Linked DNA regions of Homo sapiens: region 1 is linked to region 2. The links come from fine-mapping of genetic effects on gene expression. A gene starts in region 2. The other region holds a variant in brackets. All regions are shown on one strand. Distances are between the middles of the regions.

What was found.
Region 1: its variant is fine-mapped to the expression of RCN3 in whole blood (TOPMed, PIP above 0.99).

The regions. Positions count from the first base shown.
Region 1 is chr19:49,453,204-49,457,433 of GRCh38, reverse strand. It overlaps ALDH16A1 (aldehyde dehydrogenase 16 family member A1), which reads right to left and starts at 4,209. Exons shown (of 17, transcript NM_153329.4): 1 at 4,013-4,209. The coding sequence starts at 4,102. RefSeq lists an enhancer at 2,657-3,616. The variant G/A (reference allele first, on the strand shown) is at 2,360.
Region 2 is chr19:49,525,354-49,529,862 of GRCh38, reverse strand. It overlaps RCN3 (reticulocalbin 3), which reads right to left and starts at 1,860. Exons shown (of 7, transcript NM_020650.3): 1 at 1,805-1,860; 2 at 1,149-1,396. The coding sequence starts at 1,390. It overlaps FCGRT (Fc gamma receptor and transporter), which reads right to left. Exons shown (of 7, transcript NM_001136019.3): 6 at 4,290-4,406; 7 at 3,435-3,853. The coding sequence ends at 3,744. RefSeq lists a silencer at 1,783-1,902 and an enhancer at 1,366-1,944.

The DNA.
Region 1 (4,230 bases), 72 kb after region 2:
TGGGACTACATGCGCCTGCCACCACGCCTGGCTAATTTTTTTGTATTTTTAGTAGAGATGGGGTTTCACTGTGTTAGCCAGGATGGTCTTGATCTCCTGACCTCGTGATCCGCCCGCCTCGGCCTCCCAAAGTGCTGAGATTACAGGCGTGAGCCACTGCGCCCGGACTTCTCCTCCATATTTCTTTCTCATCCTGGTCACGTCTTCCCTGATGCTAAATCCAAAGCACACTGCTCACTTGCTCCTTCTACAGACTCCCCTAGCATCTCTGATGTCACATATTCCTGATTTTTCTCTTACTGGCCCTTCTTTCTTTTTTTTTTTTGAGATGGAGTCTTGCTCTTGTCTCCCAGGCTGGAGTGCAATGGTGCGATCTCAGCTCACTGCAACCTCCGCCTCCTGGGTTCACGTGATTCTCCTACCTCAGCCTCCCAAGTAGCTGGGATTACAGGCGGCCGCCACCATGCCCAGCTAATTTATATATTTCTAGTAGAGATGGGTTTTTACCATGTTGGCCAGGCTGGTCTCGAACTCCTGGCCTCAGGTGATCCACTCGCCTCGGCCTCCCAAAGTGCTGGGATTACAAGCATGAGCCACTGTGCCTGGCTTCTCCTTTCTCTTTAAAGCAAAAAAGTTACTTAGAAGTTCCAAACTCAAACGCCCACAGGGAGAGAGACATCTGTGAGAAAGTCAGGGATATTTGAACATGAACTGGGCATCAGATGACATTAAAGAATGATTGTTGGCCGGGCATGGTAGCTCACATCTGTAATCCCTGCACTTTCCCACGCTGAGACGGGAGGATTGCTTGAGCTGAGGAGTTTGAGACTAGTCTGGACCTACACAGCAAGACCCCATCTCTACAAAAATAAAAGTAAAAAATTTGCCAGTCATGATGATGCACACTTGTAGTCTCAGCTAGTCAGGAGGCTGGGGTGGGAGGATTGCTTGGGTCCAGGAGTTTCAGGCTGCAGTGAGCTATGAACGCTACTGAATGCTAGCCTGGGCGACAGAGTAAGATCCTGTCTCAAACAAACAAACAAAAAACAAAAAGAATGACTTAATGTTAAGTGTGGTAACAGACCATGGTAGTTTTGTAACAAAATGAGCCCTTATCTGTTAGAAGAAAGGATTCAAATATTTATAGGAAAATACTGTGACATCCAGGATTTGTTTAAATTACTCCAAAGAAAATACAGAAGGAAACAGCGCTGGGATAAATGTTGATGATGGTTGAGGCACAGTGATGGGTAAACAGGAGTTCAAAATAAATGCTAATTATTCTGTGCAAGTTGGAAAGCTTCCCCCCAAAAGAAAAACAAAATTCCAAAAGAATGTCCAGAGGGTTCCAGGAGGCCTGAGAAGAGGGCCTGGATGAGAAGAGGAGCTTAACGATTCATGGAAAAGACAGGAGCTATTGGTCCCAGATGACTTTTGTCAGGGAAGTTGAGCCAAATGTTGACACATTTTGGAATTTTATTTTCAAGAGGACCTCCCGGATGTTTACATGGAATCAATTGTCCAGCATTTCACATAAAAAAAAAATAAAGTTCACGCCAAAGAAAACATGTTTGTTGGTTGAGTCTGGCCCAGAGACTGTACGGTTGAGAACTTTGCTGGTGTAGGCAAGACCACGGGTCTGAAATGCAAGGACTCAAGTCCAAGTCTCAACTTCACTTTTTATGTTTTATTTTTATATTAATAGAGATAGGGCCTCACCATGTTGCCCAGGCTGGTCTCAAACTCCTAGGTGCGAGTGATCCTCCTGCCTCGGTCTCCCAAACTGCTGGGATTACAGGTGTGAGCCACTTGCCTGGCCTCAACTTCTTTTTTTTTCAGGGGGGACAGGGTCTTATTCTGTCACCCAGGCTGGAGTTCAGTGGTATGATCACTGCACCTCCCAGGCTCAGGTGATCCTCCCACCTCAGCCTCCCGGGTAGCTGGGACTACAGGTGTGTGCTGCCATCCTCGGCTAATCTTTTGTTTTCTGTTTCCTTTTTTTTTTTTTTTTTTTTTTGAGATGGAGTTTTGCTCTTGTTGCCCAGGCTGGAGTGCAGTGGCGTGGTCTCGGCTCACTGCAATCTCCACCTCCTGGGTTCAAGCGATTCTCCTGCCCCAGCCTCCCAAGTAGCTGGGATTACAGGTGCCTGCCACCACGCCCAGCTAATTTTTTGTATTTTTAGTAGAGATGGGTTTCACCATCTTGGCCAGGCTGGTCTCGATCTCCTGACCTCATGATCCGCCCGCCTCGGCCTCCCAAAGCGCTGGGATTACAGGTGTGAACCACTGCGCCCAGCCATTTTTGTATTTTTTTTGGAGACAGCGTCTTGCTCCGTTGCCCAGGCTGGAGTGCAGTGGT[G/A]CAATCTCAGCTTACTGCAACCTCTGCCTCCTGGATTCAAGCAATTCTCCCACCTCAGCCTCCCAAGTAGCTAGGATTACAGGCAAACACCACCACGCTCAGGTAATTTTTGTATTTTAGTAGAGATGGGGTTTCACCATGTTGGCCAGGCTGGTCTCGAACTCCTGACCTCAGGTGATCCGCCCACCTAGGACTCCCAAAGTGCTGGGATTACAAGTCTGAGCCACCACGCCTGGCCCAATGTTTTGTATTTTAGTAGAGACGAGGTTTCACTATGTTGCCCAGGCTGGTCTCGAATTCCTGAGCTCAGGCGATCTGCCCGTCTTGGCCTCCCCAAGTTCTAGGCTGTGCCAGGGTTCTGATCCAGTTCCTTCCACTTGGATCATTGCTCTGGCCTCCTGCCCTCCCCCTCAAAGAAGCCTAAGCTCCTTTCGCCTGGGTGCTGGGGGACCCTGGGGGATCATGAGAGCCCCGTGAAGGAATTCTGAGAGTGCCTGGGGAAACGACAGAAAGTTTGAGGTGCCCTACTCATTTGCAGGAACCCCACGAGGGTTCTGGGGGCCTCTGAGGGGTCATGGGAGTCCTAGGGAGGTTCTGAGGACCCCCAGGGGATCATGGGACCCTCACGAGGACTTCAGGGGTTCCTGAACAATCATGGGAACCCTATGGGACATTCTGAGAGCTAGAGAGATCATAGGAGCCCCGTGAGGGTATTGTGAGGGGCCATAAGTAATTACAGGAAGTCCTGATGTGGCTGGGTGCAGTAGCTCACGCCTGTAATCCCAGCACTTTGGGAAGTCGAGGTGGGTGGATCACTTGAGGCCAGGAGTTCGAGACCAGCCTGGCCAACATGCTGAAACCTTGTCTCTAGAAAAAGTACAAATATTAGCTGAGAGTGGTGGCGCGCGTCTCTGGTCCCAGTTACTTGGGGGGCTGAGGTGAGAGGATGGCTTGAGCCCAGGAGGTTGAGGCTGCAGTGGTGTGATAGCGCCAGTGCACTTCAGTTTGGGCGACAGAGTGAGACCCTGGCTCAAAAAAAAAAACAAAAAAAAAACCCAACCCAAACCGGAAGTCCTGATGTATTCTAGGCTCCTGAGAGTTCCGATGAGGTCACATGAACCCCACGAGTATTGAGGGGTCCTATGGGATCACGGGGGCTCCATGGAAGTTCTGAAGGTCTCTGGGTAATCAAAGGGATGAAGGGAGTCCCTCAGGAGGTCTGGGGTGCTCTGGAGGCCCATGGAAGCCATAGGATGTTTTGAAGAGTCGTGGAAAGACAATGGGGGTTGTGGGTCACTGGAGCCTCACAGGAATCCTAAGGGGTCTGGTGGGTGGCGTCAGGTTCTGAGGGGACCCTGAGGAATCACGAGAGCGTCTAGAGGAGTTCAGGAAAACCGCGGAAACACTACGAGGAGTTCAGGATCAAGGGGCAAGAGAACCAGTGGGGAAGACCGGAACAGACTAAAAGGCTGCCACCGCCAAGGCTCAAGGGAGCGTCCTACAGGGCGCGATCCTATTGGGCGGCGGGAATCACGGGGACTAAGAGAGGCGGAGCGGCTGAGCTACCGCAGTGGATGACGGGACTCCCCGCGAAAAACCGGGCGCCCAGGCCTGGGGAACGCAGCGAGCAGCGCCGGCCGGGCAGACTCTCACCAGTGCGCATGCGTGGCTCTCCGGCACCGGTCCGTACTCCAGCGAGGTGAAGATCTCGCGGGCGCGGGGCCCTGCACGCGTCGCAGCCATCGCCTACCCCGAACGCTTTCCGCGAAGACTGCGGGGCGCTCTGTGTTAAGGGGAACCTTGAGGTCCGAAGAGCGACACCTCCGGTTCCAGCCCAAAGGGGCGGGGCTAATGGGAATGGGGTGGGGCTA
Region 2 (4,509 bases):
ATTGCTTGAGCCCAGGAGGTGGAGGTTGCAGTGAGCCGAGATCGCACCACTGCACTCCAGCCTGGGTGACAGAGCGAGACTCCATCTCAATAAGTAAATAAATAAATAAATAAATAAATAAAAATTGCAACTCCCCCCCACCAACAACCTCTCCCCTCCACACTTTCTGACTCTCTTGCTTTATCTTTCTTGGATGCATTTATCTCTATTTGATCCACTTTCTACTTATTGACTTCTTGCTGTTTCCCTCACCACAGTGTAAACTTCAGGAGGACAGATGTGTTAGCTGTTGTGACTTCAGCACCTAGAGCAGTGCCTGGCACATAGCAGGTGCTCGATAAACCTTTGCAGGCTCAATCAGTGTCAGGAGGATGCACAGAAGAAGGCGGCTGCTCCCATCGCGCCCCCCTGCGCTCAGGCCTGGACGGAGAGGGTGGACAGGGCTCCATTCCACCCAGCTCACCCTGAAACTCAGGGCTCTGCCACTCTCCTGCACTGGCCGGGCTCCTTAAAGGCCAAACCTCATTTTCCACACCAGTCCCTGCCATTTACAGAGCAGGAAACTGAGGCTTGGGGAGGGGAGATGTCTGGGACAAAAGAATAAGGAGCGCTTAGGGGGCAGAATCTAACCCAGATTTTGCTGCCCTCAAAGGTCCTCTTTTTTATTGTTGTTGTTGTTTTTTAGACGGAGTCTCACTTTGTCGCCCTGACTGGAGGGCAGTGGTGCAATTTTGGCTCACTGCAACCTCCACCTCCCAGGTTCAAGCGATTCTCCTGCCTCAGCCTCCCGAGTAGCTGGGATTACAGGTGCCCACCACCACGCCTGCCTAATTTTGTATTTTTAGTAGAGACGGGATTTCACCATGTTGGCCAGGCTGTTCTCGAACTCCTGACCTCAAGTGATCGGCCTGCCTTGGCCTCCCAAAGTGCTGGGATTACAGGCATGAGCCACCACGCCCGGTCTCAAAGGTCCTCTTTAGGCCTCAATTTTAACTTAATTTCTTTTTCCCAAGGATAGAAGGTAGAATTTCATTTCTCACAAAGAAATGAAGTTCAGTCCACGCCATTTCTCTGACCCCTGTCGATACCCCCGCGTCTCTCTCCTAAGCCCCACCTCTGGACACGCCCCAACCGAATGTCTCTCTTACCCCAGACGGGCCTGGCTTTCCTCTGGGGTGAGTTGGTCGAATTCCTTGGCCACTTCCCGTCCCAGGAAAGCCTCATGGTCGTACTGGAAGTTCCCGTGGGCGTCATCATGGGGAGCGTCGCTCAGGGGGGCCGCCTGGTGCACCCTCCCCTGGCCATGAGGGCCTGCGTCTGGGGATGGCTTCCCCTGGGCCCCGTGCCTCAGTAGCAACAGAAGCAGCAGAACTGATGGTCGCCACATCATCGGTCCCTGGGGAGTGGCAAAGGCCAGGGGTCAGGGGTCACAGGGATGGGGACAGACACGGGATAGGAGAATGGCGGGGTGGAGGGGTTACCTAGGACAGGACAGGGAGTTGGAAGTTGGCTGCAAGCTTTCGGGCTCAAAAAGGGCGGGCGATGGGGGAAAAGAGGGCGGGATGCTTAGAGGTAAAGCCACCTATGGGGAGGACCGAATCTTCTGACGGAGTCTCAGGGGGGTCCCAGACCTGCCAGGGGGAATTACAGAGACAGACGTGGCGCACATCCCACGCAAGGTGCAGGGCATAGTTGTGGCCAGCGAGAGGTCAGGCAGGCTCCCCGTCATTGCTCCCAGTCCGGACCCTGGTCCTCGACCCGAGCCGCCCTCCCTGGACAGAGGCCCCCCACCCACTCCCTTTACCCTGTTATCCAGCTTCGCTCCGCTCTCCACGCTCCGCTCTGCGTTCCCGCAAATGTGCCCAATTCGGCCGCTCTCCAGTCAGGCCCCGCCTCTGGCAGCGCAGAGCCCCGCCCCCCGCCCAATGAGCTCGCACGAGCGTCTCACGGGGCGGGGCCAATGAGTGCACGGGGTGCCGCGGGCACTCCTCGCCACGTCCACAAAGGAAACCGCGGCCTGCCCGGGGAAGAAGGGTGGGCGACACCGCAGTGACGCGGCCGGGGAGAACTACAACTCCTGGCAGTCGTCGCGGCACTCTGCCGTCCACCTCCAGCTGTTCTAGTCACAACGCCTCACGGGAAATGTATTTTTCCCTTTCCCTTTGTCAGGATGGTTTAAGAAAGAGGTGTACGTTCCAACACTTCTATACCAAACAAAACAAAACAAAACAAAAATAAACAAAAAGAACGAAAGAAAAGAAAAAAGGCCGGGCGCGGTGGCTCACGCCTGTAATCCCAGAACTTTGGGAGGCCGAGGCGGGCGGATCGCCTGAGGTCGGGAGTTCGAGACCAGCCTGATCAACACGGAGAAACCCCATCTCTACTAAACATACAAAATTAGCCGGGTGTGGTGGCGCATGTCTTTAATCCCAGCTACTTTGGGAGGCTGAGGCAGGAGAATTGCTTGAACCTGGGAGGCGGAGGTTGTGGTGAGCCGAGATCGCACCATTGCATTCCAGCCTGGGCAACAAGAGCGAAACTCCGTCTCAAAAAAAAAAAGAAAGAAAAGAAAAGAAAAGAAAAGGGAGAGCAGAATCAAGGGGCCGGAGGAAATATCCCATTTCCTCCAAGAGTGAACACTGCTCCTCGCTCCTCTTCGGCTCCAAGGATTCAGGTGGTCAGACAGTAGCCAAGAATTCCTCAAAATGCCTGGCATGGCAGTCATCCAGTAAATATTTGTAAAAGTTATGAATTAAAAATACATGACCTCAGGTTGAGCACAGTAGCTCAATGCCTGTAATCCCAGAACTTTGGGAAGCTGAGGCAGGTGGATCACCTGAGGTCAGGAGTTCCAGACCAGCCTGACCAACATGGTGAAACCCCGTCTCTACTAAATACAAAAAATTAGCCGGGTGTGGTGGTGCATGCCTGTAATCCCAGCTACTTGGGAGGCAGGAGAATTGCTTGAACCTGGGAGGCGGAGGTTGCAGTGAGCTGAGATCACGCAATTGTACTCCAGTCTGAGCAACAAGAGCAAAACTCTGTCTTAAAAAAAAAAAAAAAAAGTGACCTTAGGCCGGGCGCGGTGGCTCACACTTGTAATCCCACCCCTTTGGGAGGCAGAGGCGGGTGGATCATGAGGTCAGGAGATCGAGACCATCCTGGCTAACATGGTGAAACCCCGTCTGTACTAAAAATACAAAAAATTAGCCAGGCATGGTGGCAGGCGCCTGTAGTCCCAGCTACTCGGGAGCCTGAGGCAGGAGAATGGCGTGAACCCAGGGAGGCGGAGCTTACAGTGAGCCGAGATCGCGCCACAGGACTCCGGACTGAGCAACAGAGCAAGACTCCGTCTAAAAAAAAAGAAAAAAGAAAAAGAAAAAGAAAATACATGACCTGATGTATAAAACTGGCAGGTTCCCCTGTGGCAGCATGTTACCTGTAGGAGAGATCCGAGGCCCAGCCGCCATTCAGTCCCCCGACTTATTCCCTTACCTCCCCTGCCTGAAAAATGATGAGAACACACTGATTCGGGCCCAAACTCGTGTTATATTATCGAGGTGGAAAACAGCCATATGTATTAGGAGGGGAAACTGAGGCAGACCACAGGACGGGGCTCCAGAGGGAGGACAACTAGGCCCAGAACCCCTTCTGGAGGCTCAGAGATGCCAGTGTTCCAGGAGGTCTCACAGCATGAAAGGGGCCTGACTACATTCGCTTTTAGCAGTCGGAATGGCGGATGGTCAGGCGGTGGCTGGAATCACATTTACATCCTTCAAATCAGCATCCTGGGCCTCCCCTGGGGTGGGCAGGAGGACCCCGGTGTCGTCTCCACGAAGGGAGATCCAAGGGGCTGAGGAGAGAGAGAGAGGGAGAGGTCATCAGAATCTCTGAGGCGCTCTGGGTCTGACTGGCGTCCCCCATTTGTGTGTGTGTCTCACACACTCTTCCTCAGTCTCTATCCCCTTCCTTCTGGGCCTTTGTCTCCCCTTCTCCCAATTTTCCGTCCCCCCTCTTTCTACATCTTTGCCTCCCTCCTCTGGGTCTGTCTCCCCCTCCCTCTGTCCGCACCTCTCTCTGTCCCCTCTGGGTCTCTGTTCCCCCGTCTCTGGGTCTCTGTCTCCGTCCCCCTCTCTCTGCACCTCTGTTCTCCCATCTCTGGGTTTCTGTCTCCACCTCTCTCTGATCTCTGTCCCCCCTCTCTGGGTCTCTGTCCTCCCAGGTCTGTGTGCCCCTCTCTTGGGGTCTCTGTCCCTCTCTCAGAGGCTCTTCCTCCCGCTGCCCCCCACCTGGCAGCCCACTCCTCATCCTTCTCCACAACAGAGCTCCTCCTACAGCCGCTGCCGTGAGTAGCAAGACACCGATGACGATTCCCACCACGAGCACGGAGGACTTGGCTGGAGATTCTGCAGCCAGAGAACGCTGTGAGATGTGGAGCAGCCCCTCCACCCCACCCAGTCAGGACACAGAACTGGGGCGCTCCCAGTCCCTCCCAGCCTCGGAGATTCC